Homo sapiens: one gene and its partners. The protein of the gene in region 1 purifies or fractionates together with the protein of each later gene. This does not show direct contact. Each region holds a gene or a part of one and is shown on either strand. Other genes may lie near its edges.

Region 1 (9,580 bases):
TTTCAAACAAACTTTAATTTACTTTTGAAAACCTAACTTCTTGATCAAAACAAATGCTCTTCCTTTTTAGAATAAGCTTCTTTTTTTTTTTTTTTCTTTTTGCTAAAGTGGTCCCCTCCTTTCCATCCTGCACCTTCGGGGAGAATCAACAAAGCAAACAGCTCAGCTCCAGAGCTTAAGTTACAACTGGAATGCATTTTGCATGGCCCTCCAGGGTCATTGTCCCTCAGAGTCACTTCTGCAAGTAAGAACAGCTGGGGCCCCTATGCCTCCAGGGGCTTCCAGGCACTGCTGGCTTATACACAATGACTTGTTTGTGCCGAGATATTGCCAGAGCTTTTCAGAAATACCACCAGGAGTCCAGGGTACAGGAAAGCAAGACTGGGAAGCCTGGCCCAGAGGGACGAGAAGGCAGTCACTAAGCCTAGTCCTGTGTGCTCTCATGGACATGCAACACTTCATCAGATTTGCCATGGGAAATCCTGTTTGAAAAAACAATCTCTCGATTTGGTTGGAACAAATAGTCAAACAGAATCATTCCATACCCAGCAACAGTGTCTAATCAGCACTTCATTATACCTGTGATAGACACACCAGGATGGATTTCTTTATTTATTCACTCACTTACCCACACTCATTGAACATCTACTCAAAGAAATGCGCCCAGTGAGGCACAATCGAGGGAGGAACAAAAGGAACAGACTCCTCCACTCGAGGAACTTAACAATATTATTAGGAGAAAGGTAAATTCCACTGATGTCTGACTATTCCAGATGTGGTCCACAGACCAGCCACACAAGCACCACCTGGAAGCGTGCTAAGAATGTCAAATTTCAGGGCCCTTCCCAAGACTTCCTGAATCCGAGTCTGCATTTGAACAAGAGCACAGAAAATCCACAGAAACATCCAACCGAGAAGCACTTACACACTTCTCCCAGGGCTCAATGCTGAACTTAACTCTTCTGAGCCTGAGTCAAGTTCAAACCTCAGCTGCAAAATCTGCCCAACTGGCTCCTGACCCTAGTCCTATTATTTTTCCTGCCTCTGGACTCCGCATCTGGCTCTCTGCTACTTCATGAGAAGAGCAACTTGAAATTCTCCATCACAGAGTGAGAACTAAAAGAGGGCCATGTTATCCTCCCAATGCATAACACTTATGCCATGTGAATCTCAGATTCTTATGCGATAAATTCTGATATTTCCATTCCTGCAACATTTTTCTGTTTTCCCAAAATGCCTACTCAGAAAAAGAAGTAACAACTTAATAATTCAAGTGACTAATGGGCCTGATTCAAATGGTTTACAGTTTAAACACTTCATGTTTAGCTGTATATTTTCCATGATCAAAAGAAGGGTCTCAAAACAAGACACAGCTTTATGCAATTATTAGAGTTTAAAAAGTTAGGATTCAGTTAGAGAGCAAGTGAAATTAGAAAATGCTTATTACACTAGAGCCTAGCCTTGTCCTTCTACTCTTAATATTTTGAATATAAACGCAGACACACACACACACACACACACACGTGCATAGTTACTACTAAGAATTCCAAATATAACATACATATTTTCTGTGAACATGCAGTGTTTTTTATTTAATTGACATCACTTGGGGCACTTGTAACTTATGATCTTGGAGGCAAAGAAGAAGCATATAAGTTCTATTTTGTTTTATTTAGGTTTGGGTTTGTTTTTTTTAATTTTTCAGGAAGTTCAGTAAATGGACAGTCACCTAAACCAGCAATTTTTTTTTTTGAGACAGGGCCTCACTGTCACCCAGGCTGGAGTGCAGTGGCACAGTCACAGCTCACTGCAGCCTCCATCTCCCTAGCTTAAGCAATCCTCCCACCTCAGCCTCCCAAGTAGCTGGGACTACAGGCACGCACCAAGCCCAGCTAATTTTTGTATTTTTTTGTAAACACAGGGTTTCACCATGTTGCCCAGGCTGGTCTCAAGCTCCTGGGCTCATGCAATCTGCTCACTTCGGCCTCCCAAAGTGCTGGGATTACAGGCATGAGCCACTGCACCCAGCAATTCTTCAGCATGTTGGCCTCAAAACTCCTTTACCTACTGAGTATCTGTAAAACCTTTGTTTATATTATATATAGACAGAATTATTTAAAATATTCGATTATTGATTCATTTAAAAATAACAATAAACCCACTGTACATTAATGTAAAAAACATATTTTTGTTTAAAAATAGCTATATTGTACAAAATAAAGTAGTGATAAAAGCAGCATTGTTTTGCAAATATCTTTAATGTCTGACTCAACAAAGAGGTGTATTCTCACATATGCTTCTTCATTCAATCTGTTGCAATATCACACATCTTGTAGCCTCTAGAAAATTCCACTGTACACTTCTGAAAGACTGAAAGTGGAAAAGGTAAACAACACCTCATCAGAGTGACAAGACAATTCAACAGGGAAAAGAGTTGCTTTTTTCAACAAATGGTGCTGGGACAACTGGATATCCACATGCAAAAGGATAAAGTTAGACCCCTACCTCACACCATACACAAAAATTGACACAAAATGGATCAAATATGGGAGTAGCTGTTAATAGATACAGATTTATTCTGGGGTGATGAAAATGTTCTGGAATTAGGGAGTGATTGTAGTTGCAAAGTCTTATGAATATATGAAAATCAGCTGAATTGTGCACTTTAAAATGATGAATTTTATGGTATGCAAACTATGTATCAATTTTAAAAATGGATCAAAGTCCTAAATGTAAGAGCTAAAACTATAAAACTGTTTAATGAAAACATAGGCATAAGTCCTTATTACCTTGAATTGGGCAATAGTTCTTAGCTATGACATCACAAATACAAGCAACAAAAATTATATATAAATTGGACTTTATCAAAATTAAAAGCTTTTTTGACCCCATCAAGAAAGTAAAAGATATCCCACAGAATGGGAAAAAATATTTGCAAATCACTTATTATATAAAGGGTTTGTGTCCAGAATATATGAAGAACTCTTACAACTTAATAATAAAAGACAACCCAATTTTAAAATGGGCAAAGGATCTAAATGGGCAGCTGTCTGAAGAAGATATACAAATGGCTAATAGACACATGAAAAGATGCTCAACTTTAGCCACCAGAGAAATGCAAATCAAAACCACAATGAGATCCCACTCCACACCCACTTAGGATGGTTATAATCAAACAGATAGATAATAACAAGTATTGGAGAGGATGTGAAGAAATTGAAACCCTGCTACACTGCTGGTGGGAATGTAAAATGGTGCAGCCACTTTGAAAAACTGTTTGACAGTTATTCAAAAGATTAAACACAGAGTTACCATATGACTAGTAATTTCACTTCTAGGTATACACCCAAGAGAAATGAAACATGTCTAGAGAGCAACTTTTTCAGGAATGTTCATAGCAACATTATTCATAATAGCCAAAATGTCCATCAACCCAAATGTTCAACTAATGAATGGATCAACAAAATGTGATATATCTATGCAATGGACTGGACTACTATTCAACAAGAAAAAGGAAGGAGGTACTGACCCATGCTACAATATGGATAAACCTTGAAAACATTGTGCTAAGTGAAAGAAGCCAGACACAAAAGTTCACATATTTTATGATTCCATTTTTATCAAATGTCCAGAATAGACAAATCTATACAGACAGGAAGTAGATTAGTGGTTGCCTAGGACTGGGAGGTCTGGAGGGAAATGGAGGTATGACTGCTAAAGGGCAAAGGTTCATTTTGGGGATGATGAAAATATTCTAAAATTAATTGTGGTGATGACTGCACTACTCTCTGAATATATTAAAAATTGTATACCTTAAGTGGGCGTACTACAAGGAATGTGAACTACATCTCAATAAAACTGTTATCCAAAAAGGCAAACAATATCTTAGTATTATTTTGAAAATAGTTTTTTTTTAATAGCATGGACTCCATGAAATGATCACAGGGACTTCCAGGATTCCCCAGACAACACTTTGAGAACCACCTACCCTAGACAAAGCATCTACAGTAGGTATTGTGGGTTATCTTTTTAGGAGCCATTTCCCCCTTCCTCCTATCTGATTTTAGGTATTTGCTCTTCCCCAGGCAGAACATCACCACAGGGGAAGTTGATCCCACCCTGAGTCCCAGGGTCAAGCTCTGCACCTTAAGCTAATCAGCACATTATCTTCCCCTGGTCAGGGTCACTGCTTCAGGGGTAAGCATGTGACCTGGGAGGTCCCATCAGAATGACTGCACACTTCTGTTTGGGATGCTGAATTGGAAGTGGCTTCTCTCTTCCTCTGGAGGGTATCCTATGAAAATGTGAGAACTGGCACTACTATAACTATTTCACTACCAGTCTGAGGATAGAGCCATCCCAAATGGCAAGAAGAGGCAAAGGAACCCCAGAGAAACAGAGCCACAGTCCTTGAATTAAATATATAATTCAAGACTTCTGAATATATGAGTCAGTAAATGTCCTTAATGTTAAAGCCAGTTTGAATTAGAATTTGTTGCATGTAGTTAAAAGAATTCTAGCTGATACACCGTCAATGTGCAGCTAATATTATTGTATTCTCCCTGAAGTCAATACACTTTGCCTTTGCTTTGAAAATATCAAGAGATAAGATCTTAGCAGACCATTGGAATAACATTACATTTTTTTAGGATATACTTAATATAAAGAGCTGGCCCATATAATATAGGTCTAAAAACGTCAGAGCTGTGCCACAGTATTTAACAAACTGCCTCTCTCCTCTATTCCTTTTGTGTCTGATTTTCAGTAGACTCTGAATGGCATTCCAGAAGAGCTTGGTAGAGAAAAGTGTTGAATTGTCCTTACTAGCAGAAAACTGTGGCTGCCAGCTGGACCTAGCTTGGATTTCACCAGCAGGATCATCATGGGGCCTGATATTTAGCACAGATATAGGTTTGCACATGATAATATCATTCCCATTTCAACAGATAAGAAGCTAACCTTTTCTTCAACTAAATTGATTAGAATAGTACTCTGTATTTGGGTGATATTTGAACATTTACAACATGCTTTTACATAAGCCATCTCAACAACACAGTGGAGACTGGCAGTTGAGGAATTATTACTCTCATTTTTCAGTTGAAGAACAGGAGGCCCAGTGACTGGCTTAAGGTCTTGCACCATCAGAAAGTGATGGAGTTTAGGCTTAAAGTCATTTGATTCTAAGTCAAAGCCTTCCCACTATTTAGGATTACCTCTAATATAGTTTCACAAAACATTAAGATAACAGTCACTATTTTTTCAGCTCTCACTATGTGCCAGGTACTAAGCTAAGCACTTGACATATAATCCTTATTTAATCCTTACAAAAAGTCCATGAGGGCTATGTTATTATTATTTCCACTTTATAGCTGAGGAAACTGAGGCCCAATGAGGAAAAGTGACTTCCCCAAAGTCACCTGGCTAGTCAATGGCAGAGCCAGGGTTCAAACCCAAGCAAGCAGTGCTCCAGAACATATGCTCTCAACCACTTCATGCCACTGTGCCACTTGAACAAGCATAAAGTTTGTCTGCTATAGAGAGCTGTGCCTGCTCTGAACAAGATGCCTTTTAGCTGCCCAGAACCCACCCATTCCATAAGGGCAGAAATGATATTTAACAACACACACTACAAAGGACTCTCTCATAATTTTCCTTGTTCTAGAATTTGATCATACAAAGATTGCCTAAAAAAAGCCAGGGCTGAGATGACATCTTACTAAACTCTCATGAAAGGTTTATTGTAACAATAATTGCAACCTAATTTGACGTATTCTGAAAGACGCTCCTGCATGATTAGCCGACAGCTGTTCCTCCCCACCACACACATGTGCATGCACACACACACACACACATAATTCCATTCCTTCCATAATGGCAAAGCCACCTCCCATTATAGAGAGGAAAAATGCCAGATGCATATATTCCTAGACACTTTTACAGCTAGGGCATGGGCATATGATCCAATCCAGGCCAATGGAATCTGATGGGAAAACTGATGGGGACTCTGGGAAAGTGTTCCTCTGTGATAAAAAGGCAATGCATGAGGAAATACCTCTTCTTGGACAGTGGATGTGGTAGTGACTGACTGACATCTAAAATTACTGCAGCCACCTCATAATCATGGAGACTATAGAGACATAGTTAATGCACTGAAGATGCCAGAGTGAAAAGATGGGAAGCAGCAACTGAGTCCAGGCAGAGCTTTGGAACAGCCCTGAAGTTGCCCTCTCTCTGGACTTTTTGCCAGCTAAGATAATAAGTGTCCTTATTATTTAGGCCACTTTAACTTGTCTACTCTTTTACTTGCAGCCAAAAGCAGCCTAATCATTCAGTCCCAAGAGGCAGTGCTCCAGAGATGAAAGAGCTCTGGATTTTGAGTCAAAGGACCTGGGTTCTGATCCACTTATTTGCTTGGTTACCCAAATTGCTAACCTCTTTGAATCTCATTTTCCATATCTAGTAATACAATATTGAGATAATACTCAGTAACACAATAACATCCATAAAATGGAGATAATGGATAGTTATAAAATTCATATGAGATAATACGTACACTACCACTTTGTCAACAGAAATGCTTCATTCACATGTAATTTATCCAGTCAATAATAAAACCACAGACTTTTTAAACTGTAGCATCCATCTAACCAAATTCTTTTGTTTTACAAAAGAAAAGAAAATTGACTCCAAATGTCAAATGACTCACTCAAGATCACACAGCTGGTTGGTAACATAACTAAACCACACATCTGATTCCCGATCTAATGCTGGCATGCTACCTTCATGTTGACAGGTAATGAGTTAGACTAAATATTGGGAAGGTTAGCACTCATCCATTCAACTGATGTTTAATGTGCACATATTATACTATATAGAATAGTAGGCACTATTCTAAATATCAGGGACTCTGCGGTGAACATCAGAATGTTCCTACTCTTGTGAATTTAACAGTCTAGAAAGAAAATTATTCAATCTACATCGATATTTATTGTGTTCCTACTGTATGCAAAGCACTATGCTAAGATTTTTAGTCAAATACAAATACAAATTTTCAGCCAATTCCAACTATGTCAGCCATGTTTACCAGGCTTTGCCAAAGTATGAATAATGTCAAAAATCTATGTAACCCAAAAAAGTCAGTATTAAAAATGGCAAGTTCATTAGCAAGGGTTGTGAATAACAATGCCGGTGTCTAAAGAAAAAAAAGTAGATAGAAGATGGCTAGGACTCCACTCTAATTGAAGTAGCAAGGCTGAATGAAGAATTAGAGTCAAACCTCATCCTCCTACAAAATCCAGACTTCAGGGGTTGGCTCAATTGGAAAAGCCCAATAAGGAGCATTCAGTAACTCCTTCCCTTCCCCAGGCCTCTGTCTTGTAACCCAAACTCCCCTTTACTCCCTGTCTATTTGGAATTCCTCTATCTTCCATCCTACCTGAACATTCACAAGCAAATGATATGATGGGACAGCATCCCAGACCCTGTGAAAAGAGACAGAGCCAGTGACTTCCACATCTCTTATTGGAACTGACCACCAGTCTGCTGAGACTGGACCACTAGGTTGTGTGTTTGAAAGTTTTCGTTGGCCAAATACTACCAAAATTATATGATTTGGAAAAGGATTATTTAAAAGCTGTTATTTTGCAAAAGCTCTTTCCTATCCTCTATGCAGTGGCAAATGCAAAGATCCTAGGGGGTGGGGAGGTAACAAGGAGAATACTCTGCCTTCTCCCCTTGTGGGAGGCACACTGAAGAGGCACAAAACACATGCCCTTTCACCATCACACCCTCTAATCAGAGCACAACTAGGCAATTCTCCCTTAGTTTCTGGCTTGGTTCATCTTTTGATGCATAGGCATAATTTGGGGCTACTACTGTCTGAAATATAAGGACACAGTGTATCAAACCTAACAAGGCATTTATGCATATAGTTTCTTTAAAGGCAAATACCATGTTTCTGGGGGGTGGAAATGGCCCCCAGTGACATTTGGATTGTGGGATTCCAATCAGCTCTGAGATGCCAGCCTCCCTGGAAGACCCAGGACACATTAAGTTTGCAAACTGGCAAATAGGGTCGCTTTGTCCATTCAGATCATGAATCCCAACTGGCCTTCAGTCACTGGTTTAAATTCCCCTACCTTGGATTTACCTCTTTCCATGTCTGGAAATTTCATTGAAACTTCAGCTATTTTAACTATGGGGTAATATGTCAAAGACATACATAAGCTTTGGATCCAGACAATTCTGGATTTGAATTCCAGCTGCTCATTCTCTTTTTAGAGATGTGGCCTTGAACAAGTCACTTAAGTTATTAGCTTCTCAGTTTTCTTACCCAAAAGAAGGGAATAATACCTACTCAAAGGTTGGTGGTAGAGATCAGACATAATGAGTGGAAAAGGCTGGCTCATGAGAGATGCTCAAGAAATGGCACCTAGAGCTATTCACATTGTCTCAAGCAATAGTCCTGAAGGTTTCTATCATCTCTTGCATCTACCATGTGTGGCCACTCTCCAGCACCTTGCTAGAGAAACCTGTTTGAGTGGCTCATTTTTCTTTGAATCTGGAATGCTTACCTACTAGAGAACACAGACTAATGAGCTCCCAAGGATGTGTGGCTTGAGTTTCCCCTACTTATTTTGGGGCTCCATAGGCAGCACTCCTGTAGTGAACAGGAGTGAACAACTAACACATGTCCAAGAGCTCCTGCTCCTCCTACAGAGCCTCTAGATCAAGCTCATCCAACCCATGGCCCAGGACAGCTTTGGATGCAGCCCAACAGAAATTCATAAACTTTCTTAAAACATTATGAGACTTTTTGTGATTTTTTTTTTTTTAGCTCATCAGCTATCGTTAGCGTTAGTGTATTTTATGTGTGGCCCAAGACAATTCTTCTTCTTCCAATGTGGCCCAGGGAAGCCAGAAAATTGGACACCCCTGCTCCAGAGCCAGGCAGACACCAGGGATGAGAGCTCCTAACGCAGACAGGCAGATGTGGGCTATGGAGAGAGGGTGACATTCTGTGACAATATATACAATCCTTTAACTTTGTAGTTCTATAGAAGGAAGGAAGCAAACACAGATGGATTCACCCAGAACAAGTGCCAGTAATTCCAAATGGTTTTGTTTCGCATTGTTTTTTAATCCTTTTGTTCTCACTCTAAGCAAATGGGAAGTCTTTGTTACCTGATACCCGGAAGGGCAATTTCAATTCCTGGTCTGGAGTACTCTAGGAAAGTGTGAGGTCTAAAGTTATCCAAATAAAATATTTTAATTTATTTTAATTGGTTAAATAATAATTGTAATTTGGGGGCAGAAAGGGCAGAAAAAGACAAATCACAAAATGAAACATCATAATTTTTTAAAAATCAGTGCCCAAGCCAACATTTTGAAACATAACATTTTAACCTCTTTGGCACTAGTTGGGTCATAAGCACTGGAGTTTTTCAAACTGTTGTTAGACTGGCTACAATTTATTGTTTCTCAAAACACAAGACAACAAATACATGTCCTTTGGGGAATATTTATTATTCTAAGGAAGACTTCATCCTGAGGGAGGGGAAAAAAATGTCAACACCAAGTG
Region 2 (7,000 bases), on another chromosome or scaffold:
CCTCCTACGAAGTGCTAACTGCTTATTTAAATAACGGTATTCTTTAATTCAAATGTAACGTTACCGTAGGGGCTTTGCTTTTCATCGTTCTAGGCCGCTTTAGGCCCCTTTTCTTACTCCAAATATTTAACACCTTACATTTGTTAGTCTTTTCTGTTTTCCGAATTTGTTTGCCTTTGTTAATCTGATTAAGTGGTAATTTAGAAAATGCTTTGCAGACATATATGCCCTAATTTTAATGCCTGTTTTTCATATCTAGGGAGCAGGATGCTTGAATACTTCTACTAATTTGAAAATTGGTTTTGAAGAGCTTATCAATGCATTCATGTTTCAGTAATCCTTAATAGATCTAGAAATGTATAGAACATTTCAACTTTTTAGCACTTAATGTAATTATATAATTTTATTCTCATTTTTAATCACAACACGTAGTAGGTGCTTAGAGTCACAGTTTATCAGTGGTAGAGGATGTTAACTTGCACTCTTCATTGCTGATTAATTTGGGGAAAGAATAGGATAGTAAATATTTGTGGTTTGAAAATTGAATTTATTTTGCCAGGATTTATATGTGTAACAGATTAGTATTGATCATTTTTACTTGGCATATCAAAAATATAGTATGGTTTGGCTTAAATGGTCCACAAAAAGTGAAAAGAGAAGCATTTTTGGGTATATTGTTATTTTTAGCTAACAAATGGTTTTGAGTAGTTAGATGTTTTATTAAATTTATAATCCTCTAGTCCAATACCAGTTGTCTTTCAGAGTATGCTTTTGTGTTTTGTAAAAAGGCAAAATAATAGAAGTTGGGCAGGATTTACATAGTAAAAGGAAGAGCCTACTTCAAAGTGGCTGGTTTTATAGATTGGATTTATCACTAATCTTGATAAAATTTTGACAAATCATTGCTTTATTGGGGATTTCAAGGTTTGACCTTCTCTCTACCTCGAGTCGGGTTATCTCAGAAACCTAACCTTGATCAGGGCAGGCTTGGCTTCATGGATGTTCAGAAGGGCCCCACACTTGGTTTAATAATCTGCATGTAAAACTGGGATTGTACAGTATAAGGGTGAATGGTAAAATTCATGCTAATTTAAATTTTTAATTTTCCTTTACTCAGAACGACATTAAACATCAAATTTAAAAAACACTGAGAGCCGGGAGCGGTGGCTCAGGCCTGTAATCCCAGCACTTTGGGAGGCCGAGGCGGGCGGATCACCTGAGGGTCGGGAGTTTGAGACCAGCCTAACCAACGTGGAGAAACCCCGTCTCTACTAAAAACACAAAGTTAGCCTGGCGTGGTGGCGGGCGCCTGTAATCCCAGCTACTCTATTCCCAGCTACTCGGGAGGCTGAGGCGGGAGAATCGCTTGAACCCGGTAGGCAGAAGTTGCGGTAATCCAAGATGGCGGCACTGCACTCCAGCCTGGGCGACGAGAGCAAAACTCCGTCTCAAAAAAAAAAAAAACCGCGAAACAGTTGAGAGATACAGAAGAAAGTTTTGAAAGAGCTTTACATTTTATTACCTTTAACGACTTTTTTTTTTTTTTTAAGACAAGAGTCTTGTTCTGTCGCCCAGGCTGGAGTGGAGTGGTGCGATCCGATCCCCGCTCATTGGAACCTCCACCTCCCGGCCTCAAGCGATTCTTGGGCCTCAGCCTACTAAGTAGCTGGGATTATAGGCGCTCGCCACCACGCCCGGCTAATTTTTGTATTTTTAGTAGAGACGGGGTTTCACCATGTTGGCCAGGCTGGTCTCGAACTCCTGGACTCAAGTGATCTACCCGCCTTGGCTTCCCAAAGCGCAGGCGGGAGCCACCGTGCCCAGCCTTTTTTTTTTTTTTTTTTTATCTTTTGAGACACAGTCTTGCTCTGTCTCCCAGGCCGGAGTGCAGTGGCGCGATCTCGGCTCACTGCAACCTCCGCCTCCCGGGTTCAAGTGATTCTCCTGCCTCAGCCTCCCGAGTAACTGGGATTACAGATGCGCGTCAGCATGCTTGACTAATTTTTGTATTTTTAGTAGACACGGGGTTTCACCATGTTAGCCAGGCTGGTCTCGACTGACTTCAAGTGATCCGCCCGCCTCGGTCTCCCAAAGTGCTGGGATTACAGACATGAGCCACCGCGCCCGGCCATCGCCCAGCCTTTTAACAACATTTTTCCCTGATTTTGAACAAGAGTCCCCGCAAATGATGTAGGTGGCCTGTTGTCAAGCCTGGCCTTTCCCAGTGCAAATGTTTTGAGAGTGAATAATGTTAACTGTGAGGAGAATGAATCTTTAGCTTAGAGGAGGTGGATTACTTTATTAGCATCTATTTTCTCTGAATTGGAGTGCTATAGCTCATGTGGTGCTTTTTTTTTTTTATTGAAGAGAAATGAAAGATGGAGCCATGGGTGAGGCATTGTAGAACAGTGTTTAATAGGGGAGGCTATGAAGTCAGGCAGACCCCAACTTCACAACTTACTAATAATTATAGCCTTGGGCAAGTTACTTAACCTCTGTGAGCTTTGATGTTCTCATCTTTAAGTCGGGGATGGATACAAAACATGGAAGGTTGCGAGAATTAAATTTATCTGTCTTTCCAACAAATATTTATTAAGCACTTATTATGTGCCAAGCACTGTTTTAGGTGCTGGAGATGCAACAGTCAGTGAAGCAAAACCGACAAATTGAAGCAGAAAGGAAACTAAGTAAAATGGATAGCCTGTATTGCCATTTAATATACTGCAGAGAATAATAAAGTGGAGGGGCATGGGGATTGTCAGGTTGATGGGGCAGATGGGGTTTTGCAACTTTAAAAGAGGGTGTTTGAGGAAGGCCTCACTGAAATGACACCAAAGACCCTAAGGGAACCATATATATCTGGGGATAGTGTGATCCAGGCAGAGGGAACAGGGTGTAGAGAGGCCTTAAGTTGGGAGTGTAGCTGGTTTTCAAGGAACAGCGGCACCAAGGGAGATAGTAATATAAGATTATTATTATTGCCATTTTAAGAATCATTGGAAAGGCTCTCATAGTTCATCTCTGCCAAGGGTATATGTTGTATTGCTGCTGGTCCAAAAGTGGAAGACCTTTTCAGAATTTGAAATTTTAACTTTGCAAGTAAGAAATTAGGAAAGACAAAATATGTTGTCAGGTTTTCTGTTTTTAACGTAAGACCCTTAAAGCTCATCAGGCTCAATCACTGAAACATGTAAGAATGGATAGAAAAAAATACCCTTTGTCTCTGATAAGATCTTTGAATTTAGTTAATGATATATATTATAGACTAATGATTTGCAGGAAATCTGTATCATAACAGCAAGACTTTCCAAAATATTTAGTTTGGTTGTATAATTCTTATGAGGAACTGAAAGGCTAACATTACAGTATTTGTGATTTCATGTTAGAATAGAACTTAGAAGATTTGGGGTTTTATTCCCCAATAGAGGCTTTTCCTAGAATTCTCACTGGATCCAATCTCTAAAGGCTAGGGAAGCTGTTTTCCATGACATCACTCTTGGACTACTTCTAGTCATAGTGTGGAATAAGCAGAGAAGCATTAAATTAAAGTCTTCTGATGAAAAATAGCATTCAAGCAGGGTTTTTTTTTTCTTATAAGGCTTCTTGTATTATAGGATGACGAAATGCTAAACATACCTGAAAAGTGAAGTAATTTGGTGCCAGTCTGGAGGCTGGAGGACCCAGGGCCCTCCTAATAGCTTAGTTAAATGGTCATTTGCAATTTGGTCCTGAGTTATAAAAATATTTTGATGACAAGAAAGAATTTCCAGTATTAAACAAATTAAAGTTAACTTACACAACGTCTCCTCCCATATTAAAGTGAGTTTTCAATTTGAGTAGTGTATTGAGAGTAAAGTGACCGCTAATAGAGCTTAAAAGTCTGTCTTTAAATTTGTCTTTTCTTTTATATTGGTATGTTGAGAAGTTGGCTGCTTTGAGATTGTCAAATTTACATTTTTTTACTTTATGGGTTACAGAAGTGAGAAATGTTATGACTCAGAAATTAATTCTGTTTTTATCCGTAGTAAGCCTTTGCATTCTCTTTTCGATATGCAACTGTGGCATTTTCTGCATAGGCATCAATTTTGGTAGGAGAACAGTTTGGGGATGAAGATAGTATGAAATCATTTAAATTTTTCATTGAGGGTAAGTATATTATATCAACCTCTGAGAATCTAGCTTTTGCATTGAATACCTTAAGCTTTTGTATGAATTTTCAAGCAGCTGTGGAAGGAATGTGAAAGCAATAAATTATTGCTTATGGCACAAACATAGAGGTTAATTTTGAAATGTCTTTTAATTGCCTATAATTTTGCCTTCACATCAGAATGGCAGCCTTATAACTGAAAAGGAAGCATTTAATTTCTTTGCCTTTAATTTCCTGTCCAGTTTTACCCCCACCAAACTTCTTTTTTTACTGGTCACTAGAGAGTTTGAAGTGTTCAAAAATTCTGTGATATAAATAGCAGTAATAGTCTTCCAGGGCAGAGGTAGGAAGAGGTTGAGGTTTGTGCGTGCACGTGTGTGTGTGTGTGTGTGTGTTGTCACTTATCTCTTACACTTTCAGTTGTTCTCAAGCCTGTGGTCTCAGGACTTCTTTGTACTTATTTGTACTCTTAAAAATTAGTGGGGGCCGGGCTTGGTGGCTCACACCTGTAATCCCAGCACTTTGAGAGGCCGAGGCGGGTGGATCGCTTGAGGCCAGGAGTTCGAGACCAGCCTGGGCAACATGGTGAAACTCCGTCTCTACTAAAAATAAAAAAATGAGCTGGGCGTGGTGGTGGGCTCCTGTAATCCCAGCTACTCAGGAGGCTGAGGCAGGAGAATCGCTTGAACCCCGGAGCAGAGGTTGCAGAGATCATGCCACTGTACTCCAGCCTGGGTGCAGAGTGAGACTGTCTCAAAAAATAAATAAACAAATAAAAATTAATTCTATTACATGGTAACCTAAATAACATTTTTTTATGAAAAATAACTTTTCTAAAACAGTTAAGAACTTGGTGAAAAGAGTGGCATTGTTTTAAATTTTTGCATATCTCTTTAATATCTGGCTTAATAAAAGCCAATGGGCTTCTCATCAGCTTCTGCATTCAGTCTGTTGCAATATCACATACCATGTGTAAACCTCTAGAAAACAGAATGAAAGTGAAAAAGACAAATAACTATTCTTTATTTATGTATTTATTTTGAGAAGGAGTCTTGCTCTGTCGCCCTGGCTGGAGGTGGCGCAATCTTGGCTCACTGCAACCTCTGCCTCCTGGGTTCAAGCAATTCTCGTGCCTCACCCTCCTGAGTAGCTGGAATCAGACGCACATGCCATCACCCCTGGCTAAGTTTTGTATTTTTTAGTAGAGATAGGGTTTCACCATATTGACCAGGCTGGTTTTGAACTCCTGAGCTCAAGTGATCAGCCCACCTCTACCTCCCAAGGTGCTAGGATCACGGATGTGAGCCACTGTGCCCGGCTGACCAATAACTTTAAAAAAATTATTTGGATAATAATTTTGACATTGGGAAGCCCCTTTAGTGGGGACTGGGATCTTTTAGGACAACTGGATTCACTTGTCCCCAGATCATGCTTTGAGAATCCCTATACTAATCATTCTTAGGCACAAAAATGTGAGGCTTTCTTTTATTTAGTCAGTACCAAGTTTATGAAACAAGACACGTTCTTCAGTATTTCTTTCCTGGTAGTATAAGTATGCCTTGTCATTTGGTCTAATTGGTTTCCCTCTTGAAAAAAAAAAAACCTACTATTTGAAATTCTGAAGGCCATGTATAAAGTGTTGATAAACCTATATATGAAAAGTAAGGATACAGAATTTTTGTACATTGAACATTTTGTCAGTAAATGTTTTTCCTCAAAGCCTCTTAAATTTTTCCTCCAGCACTCATTTAAAGAGTTCTTATTTAAGGTTTTTGTGTTTTACAATGATTCGTTTTTTTCTTTTGGGAGAGTGGGGCTACGCACTTCTTGTTGAGCACGCTACTGCTGCCGCGGCTGTCTCTGCCATTGCAAAGTAGTTCTTATAATAGTTTTCTTCCTTAAATTGATATAATTCTGTACTTAGATTTCTTTTTAGAGACAGGGCCTTGTTCTGTTGCCCAGACTGGAATGCAGTGGCTTCATCGTGGTTCACTGCAGCCTCGACATCCTCACCGCAAGCGATTTTCCTGCCTCAGCCTCCCAAGTAGCTGGGGCCACAGGAGCACGCCACCAAGCTCTGCTATTTAAAAAAATTTTTTTGTAGGGAAGAGGTCTGGCCACATTGCCCAGGCTGGTCTTGAACTGGATCAAGTGATCCTCGTGCCTTGCCTCCCAAAATGTTGGGATTACAGGCATGAGGCCGCTGTAACCAGTTAAAGAATTATGTACACAATTTTTTTTTTTTTTTTTTTTTTTTTTTGGGACATGGTCTCACTCTGTTGCCCAGGCTGAAGTTCAGTGGTGGATTATAGCTCATTGCAGCCTCGGCCTCCCGGGCTCAGTTTATCCTCTGACCTCAGCCTCCTGAGTAGCTGGGACTACAGTCACACACCACCACGTCTGACTAATTTTTATGTTTTTAGTAGAGATGGGGTTTTGCCACGTTGCCCATGCTGGCCTCGAACTCCCGAGCTCAAGCGATATGCCCATCTCGGCCTCCCAAAGTGGTGGGATTATAGACGTGAGCCACTGCGCCTGACTCTGATCTGTTATAAATCTGCATTATGATAAACCCTAGGGAGGCATGGGGTTGGTAGAGAGGGGAGACTGAGGGTTCTCACTTAGGTTAATTCATTTATTCACCACCCTAACTTGATAATAAGATGATGATGATTATTAGTAATGTATGGATGGAAACCAAGATAGGAAGTTAACAAAATTTCTGTAGGTCACACAGTAAGCACTCTGATTTCAGAGGTTTTGCTCTTTCCGACCACACTATTTTGTATTTTTTGCAAATAGAATCTAATTTTTTTTTTTTTTTTTTTGAGACAGGCTCTTAGTTTGTTGCCC
Region 3 (7,000 bases), on another chromosome or scaffold:
ATCATCTGTAAAATAAAGAAATTGGAGTAAATGATCTTTGAGATCTATTCTGGATTCAGAATTGTATATCTGATTGTAAAGCAAACATTCAGAGGTAAAAGATTTTTTGTAACAGTCATGTATTGTTACTGTACTCCATTTTCTAAATGTCATCAGTTTTCTATAGTATATAATCCTTTAATTATGAACCACACATTTTTGTTGAATCTTTCTGCCAAAACCTTGAGAGTTCTGAGAATTGGTAAAAATTACTACAGTTGTAATGCTTTACAGTGTCCAGTCACTCTAATTTTTGGAGAGCGAGCATAAGCAGAGTGCTTATTTTCACAGACATTGCAGACAGATATTTGGTTTCACTATTGGCCTTCCCACTTTCTAGTCATTTGAACTTGGCTAAGCTCCTTAGCCTCATTGTAAGCTTTTGTTTCTTCATCTCTATAAAAAGGAGTCTTAATACTACCTACTTACATCAGAGAGTCATTGTAATGACTAAATGAGGTAATAAATATATAGCCTTTTTAGTATAATGCTTGCCATTTGGTAAGTACCCGGTAAATATTTGGTATTATATTAATTTTAGTTTTAGTTTTAGTTTTGCTTTTATATTAATTTTAGGCTAAACTGGTGTTTTGGAGAAAATTCAAAATATAGTGGCTCCAATACAGTAGAACTATATTGACTTACAGGTCCAGGCTGGCAAGGTCCCTACGGTCCCTGATGTCATCAAAGGGTTCAGATGTCTTCTATCCTGTTAATCCACCTAGCTTGGCCTCCAGCCTGGTATAATGTCCTCTTGTATTTGGTCAAGACTGGGTCACTGCCACTTCTTTGCCCCACTCTGGAGGAAGTCCAGAGCAAATGCTTTCTTTCTATACCAGTGACTCACGTGTGTAGTACATAGCAAGTTGCACATATCACTTTTGCTTACTCTATTGGTAAGAGCAGCTAAAAGCTGTAATAGAATCTGGGAAATGTCTTTTTTTTCTGGGCAGCCATGTGCACAGTTAAAATTCTTAATCTGGAAGAAATGCTGGTATTTATAGGACAAGTTACCAAACAAATTCTGCAATAGCTATTTCTGCTATTATTACTGCTAGTAGCATTACTATTACTGCAGAATTACATTATACACCTACAGTATTTGTACAGTTTCAATTACATGCACTAAGGTAAGGGAAGAGTGGGCAGAGAAGAGAATGAATTTTTTTCTGCTTCATGTGAGATGAAATAGGAAATATGAGTGGTTCTCTGCTGAGTGTGATTCTTGTGTTTAAAGATAGATATTTTTAAACAATATACAAACCAATCACTTTGTCTGATGGTCAGGTAGGGTAATATCAATATAGTACAATTTTGGGAGAAGATTGGCTGAGCTGGACTTACTGATAGTGTGATCTTTTGAGATGCACCATCCTATGAGATTTTCAAAGATAATTTCACCTATTCCTAACTTTTGTCTTATTAGCTGTTTGGACAGTTTAACACATGGGTAAGATTTAACTACCACAGTACTAGTAAAAAATTAGTATACATTTGGAAAACTGCTGTCACTCAGCTGTTTAGTTTACTAGTTACAGCATATCAGACAGAGAAAGTTTTTTTAGTTAAGAAATGTATAGATGTTGAATTCCTTATAGCTAGGTTACAGAAAAATTGATATTCTAGTTTTGAGATAGTGAACATCTCTGTTGAAGGAAACAGAGAAGAACCATCAAGGGTGTCTTTTATCACCTTTTATCTCATACTCGTACAAGGAGCTAAAGGAGTTTTTAAGCAATAATAAAATATATTCTTTTTAAATTCAGAGTGAATTTAATCTAAAAGCTTTTCTTCTATCCCTTATTGATGTACTTTATTTTAAGCAATCCCAAACAGTTAAAAATAATTTTCCACTAAAAATAAATTAGGATAAATGCACTTAAACTAATTATTGCTTCACAAAAATAGTCACAAAATGATCTTCTCTTTCATTAAGTTTCTCTTGTGGATTAAAATGATTTTGTTGGCAAGATTTTTCTTGTCTTACTATTTTTAAGGAGCACATTTCTGTGCTAAAAGAGGCATAGCAGTGAAATGTTTTAGAATCTTAGATGAGACTTAGAGGTCACTTTGTCTAACCTAACTCTGTGGGCAAGAATCCGTTCTAGAACTATCTGCAGGGTGACCATTCAGTCTTTCTTTGAATGTTTCTATAATTCGGAGTGCATGCCTTTGTTCCTTTTATTTTTGGACCATTCTGTTCAACATAATGAATATTGTAAGGGTCAAACTCAGCATGTGCTCAGAGCAGTTTTTGCTTCTCAAAATTCTAACTAACCGACAGTCTGATTACTACCTGGGATTATGAAAATTACTGGAGTTCTGTCCTTTCACCATAAATCATGCCTTAGGAATTTAGAGGTCATTTTCTAACTGTCTACCCAGGGCACAAGTTTCTTCCACAGCCTTCTGATACCATTCCAGTCCTAGCACAAAACAGGTGTTGAATAAACATAGATTGCTGAATGTGATTTTTGTCTACACTGTTGCTCTTAACAAAGTGGGTGCTCAGTGTTTTGAAGAATGAGTTGGGATTGCAAAGCCTCAAGTAGCTAGGGATTTGGAGAACCAGACCTAATCTGAGCCTGAAAAGCAAAAGCAGACATGGAGATGAGTTGTTATTACCTCAGACTAAGTAAAGATCCATCAGAATGATAAATGAGAGTGAGAGCAGCGGGCATGATGGTAAAACTTTCTCTGTGATCTTGAGAGGAACCACTCTCATCTTTGTGTTTTTATACACAATGGAACACTTGGACATAGTAAGTAGTGGTATATAAAAGATCCTTGGAAAATGCTTCCATATTTCTGTTAAATAATACACAGAGAAATCTTTGACCAATTAGGTAAAAATTATCAGAATTGTTACTCTTCAATATAAGAAACAATGCATTATAAAATTTTGTTAGATTTATTACTGTTGACACTATTATCTCCTATACTAGCAATAAAATAAACATGAGAAATGTGAGAATAGTGTCTTTTTTCCCAGTCTTTTAGTCTGGATTAATTGAATTCTGGAGTTCTGTATAGATATTACAGCTTTATTTCTGTGTAGTATATTTGTTTTTCTGCCTTTGCAGGAGCTGTAAATAAGGTTGACTGGATATGTCTCATCTGGTATTACAACCAATTAATGTGGACTTGAGATCTTGGCTGCCCAAAGGTTATTTATAACTTTCAGGCATATTCTGGTAGAATGCTGGATGTCAAGGGAGAGGATGTCATGTTATATGAGATGTTCCTGGACACATGGTCTTGATTGTTGTTGTTGTTGCTTTTTTGGAGACTACATTCTCTTGCCCAGCTGGAGTGTAGTGGTGCAGTCAGATCTCACTGTAACCTGAAATTCCTGGACTCGAGTAATCCTTCTGCCTCAGCCTCCTGCGTAGCTAAGGCTCTGGGCATGTTCCACAATGCCTGGCCTTTAAAAATTTTTTGTAGAGCTGGAGTCTTGCTATGTTGCCTAGGCTAGTTTCAAACTCCTGGCTTCAAGCGATCTTCCTGCCTTAGCCTCCCAAAGTGCTGGGATTACATATGTGAGCCACCACACCCATCCCAGTCTTGGATTTTTTATGTTATTTTTCATAATGAAAAGCAAAGGATTGTTTGGGATCTATAGGTATCATATATTAGAGATTGCATATATAGGTTTAGATTTGAGGTTTGGAATTTATAGGCTTAAGATTTTTAACTCTTGGCCGGGCACGGTGGCTCATGCCTGTAATCCCAGCACTTTTGGAGGCCAAGGCGGGCGAGTCGCAAGTTCAGGAGTTCAAGACCAGCCTGGCCAACGTGGTGAAATCCTGTCTCTACTGAAAATACAAAATATTAGCTGGGTGTGGTGGCGGGCACCTGTAATTCCAGCTACTCGGGAGGCTGAGGCAGGAGAATCACTTGAACCCGGGAGGCAGAGGTTGCAGTGAGCCGAGATCGCGCCACTACACTCCAGCCTGGGCGACAGAGTGAGACTCCGTCTCAAAAGAAAAAAAAGAAAAAGGGACATTTTTTGCTGTGGATCCACACCTGTAGGACTCTGCCATGATCCTTTTTACCAGGAGGTCTTCCATGTAGGTATTTCACTTTCAAGGGACTTTTTGGAGTAGGGGTTATAATTAGTTGAGCGGTTATGGACCCTTTTGAAAATTTGATGAAAACTGCAAGCATTTTACCTAGCAAAGTATGTGTACACATTGACATATCTTTATATACAGCTTAAGAGAAATACATTTTTATTGACCTCTTGGAGGCCATCGTTCTAGGACATAATAGATAACTGGATTAAATACCCATGCTGAAAGTGAACCTCAGCTGTGGGAAAGTAACTTAATGGACCTATGGGATATCTGTAGCTACTTAGCCCAAATGATTTTGTATCAGGATGTTAACACTTTGACTCTGTAACAATTTGGACATATAACTTTTCTAACTTCTTTTTACTTTCTAGTATATTTCTTTAGCTAATATTATTTTGAACCTATGTTTTATTGATCCTGTTATGTTTTTCAAAGTCTTACTGTTTCATATTGCATTTTTAAAAAAATGCCTTTTTGTTGTGAAGTATAGCAAACATACCGAAAAGTTATTAAAACACAAATGTACAATTTAATGAAAAATTTTGCGTGTAACTGTCAACCAGGTCAAGAAATACAGCATTGTCAGTTCTCCAGCAAGCTACCTAGACTTCCAATGAAAACATCCTCCTTTTGGTAGAAGTATTCATTAATCTGACTTTTAAGATAGTTATTTTCTTCTTGTTCTTTATAATTTTAGCATCTATATAATCATCTTTAAAATATCTTAATCTTTTAGAAAGTCTTATATATTGACATTTATTGTATATATTTTTGTTTGTTTTGCTGTCTTTCAAAATTATGCTTCTGTGTATCTTTCATGTTGCTGTAGGTACTTGTAGTTCATCTACTTTCATTGTTGTATCATTTTTCCATTATATGAGTATACCACAGTTTGTCTATTGGCTATACCTTGTTCAAGATTATCATGATATTCGCCAAGAGAACTTTTGATTCTGTATCGTATATTTGCCTTTAGATCAATTTCTCTCTTTATTAATAAGTCAAATATTAACTAGTAAATTTGTTACATGTAAATTGAGAATTCAAAGAAGAGTTTGAAATCAATAATCAGCTTTTATTGTAATCTGTTATTTTACTTTCAAGAACTCATAAGTCTATAATATATTGTTTTTCTAAATACTTCATATGTATTATATACCTGGCCCATCAGAAAAGCAAATTAAGGAAATTCAGCAATTATTTGAACATTACTATTTTCTAGGTACTAAGGCTTGTAGTATTTTAGTAGATGTATAGTTAATTTATTCTTTACATAGTGTCAAAATAAATAAGATCTATGTTTTTGTTTTTAAAACATCATAGTACAGGATGCTATAAAGTGAACAGTTTACCTTTCCGGGATTTTTTTTTTTCCCCTGTACCCAGTGCTAATTCTTTGACTGTTCTTTCTAGAAAAAAAGGTAATAATGTTACATATCTATATCCTTAAAATATTACACAGTAGAATATTGATATTCACCTTTTATACTTTTTGCTTAATAAGATATCTTGATTTCAAGGACAATCAGCATTTTTTAATTAGGACATCACAGAAGCTTAAAATAGAAATAGTGCTTGATATTCTCATTCTTCTAGATAACCTCACCACTCAATTTTTTATTATAGAAGCAAGGATCATGGGAAATACTAACTTTTACATGTTAGAAATCATAAGATTTATTTATAGGGCATGATAAAATTTACCTATGGAAAATCATAACTTTAATTTGCTGTATATCTGTATTGTTTTCTTAGGCATTATTGGAGACCATGTTTGGTGTAAAAGTGATTATAACTGGGGATGCATTTGTTCCTGGAGAAAGAAGTGTCATTATCATGAACCATCGGACAAGAATGGACTGGATGTTCCTGTGGAATTGCCTGATGCGATATAGCTACCTCAGATTGGAGAAAATTTGCCTCAAAGCGAGTCTCAAAGGTGTTCCTGGATTTGGTAGGTTATTCACACATTATTTTAAGTGGTTCATTCATTTTAGATGTAATGCACCCACTGTAAAACTGACTTAAGCATTAAAGCGATTCCATTTTTTTCCTCACTGGGCCAAAAACAATCTCTGGTTCTTTTGTCTTTAGTGGATCTGCTATGGCAGATGACTTTATTTTAATCTGTTTTTAAAAAATATTACTCTGAAAGAGAAAATAAACTGTTCTCAAGGAAATGGATATATAGTATCTGAGGACCACAGCATTGAAGGATATGAATTAATAGTTTAGTAACTTTTTATTGCAGGTAGTACTTGTGATTTCGGCCAGAAACTGGTCTGTGCTGATAAAGTACTTGACATTGACTGATTCATTCATATTCATGTAGTAAGTATTAATTGAATATGTAGGTTCGAAGCATTCATTATGCTAGGTGCTGGTACTTTCTGAACTTCCCCAATCTATAACTTTTTTTAAAAAATGTTTTTATCGCGCTTGTATAATATAATATTAAAGTTCCTGGAAATGTTTATTTTAAATGGCTAGGAATACAACATGTTCATTGTGTGTTGGAGAAGTAGGGATATTTCAACATTGCATGTTAAAAATAAATGGCCTCCTTTCTCAACTTGCTACTTAATGTGAAAAAGGGAGGGGAAAGATTATAAATATATTCAAACCAGTTATTCACATGGGTATATGAAGTACCCACTATATCCTCCTGACAGCCTTGTTAATTACATTTATACTTCTGTGGTTTACCTAGGTAACATTTCTCACTTAAACTATGTACCCTCTTAAACCATTCCTCTATTAGTATACTGACGTGGTTTATGATTTGTGAGGGCAAAGGGCAGGCCCTCACAGGATAGACTAGTAAGGATAGACTAGCAAGGGTGTTTGTAGTTGATTTACTGTGTGTGTGTGTGTGTGTGTGTGTG

What was found.
Region 2: the proteins of FRMD3 (region 1) and KLHL15 purify together in Homo sapiens (affinity purification with mass spectrometry; 2 studies listed by BioGRID and IntAct, with this or other methods). This does not show direct contact.
Region 3: the proteins of FRMD3 (region 1) and LCLAT1 purify together in Homo sapiens (affinity purification with mass spectrometry; 2 studies listed by BioGRID and IntAct, with this or other methods). This does not show direct contact.

What each region holds. Positions count from the first base shown.
Region 1 is NC_000009.12:83,526,798-83,536,377, forward strand, and holds part of FRMD3 (FERM domain-containing protein 3), read right to left. Parts: intron 1-9,580. UniProt on the Homo sapiens protein: Putative tumor suppressor gene that may be implicated in the origin and progression of lung cancer.
Region 2 is NC_000023.11:24,017,187-24,024,186, reverse strand, and holds part of KLHL15 (kelch-like protein 15), read left to right. Parts: intron 1-7,000. UniProt on the Homo sapiens protein: Substrate-specific adapter for CUL3 E3 ubiquitin-protein ligase complex.
Region 3 is NC_000002.12:30,527,246-30,534,245, forward strand, and holds part of LCLAT1 (lysocardiolipin acyltransferase 1), read left to right. Parts: intron 1-5,870; coding exon 5,871-6,069; intron 6,070-7,000. UniProt on the Homo sapiens protein: Exhibits acyl-CoA:lysocardiolipin acyltransferase (ALCAT) activity; catalyzes the reacylation of lyso-cardiolipin to cardiolipin (CL), a key step in CL remodeling.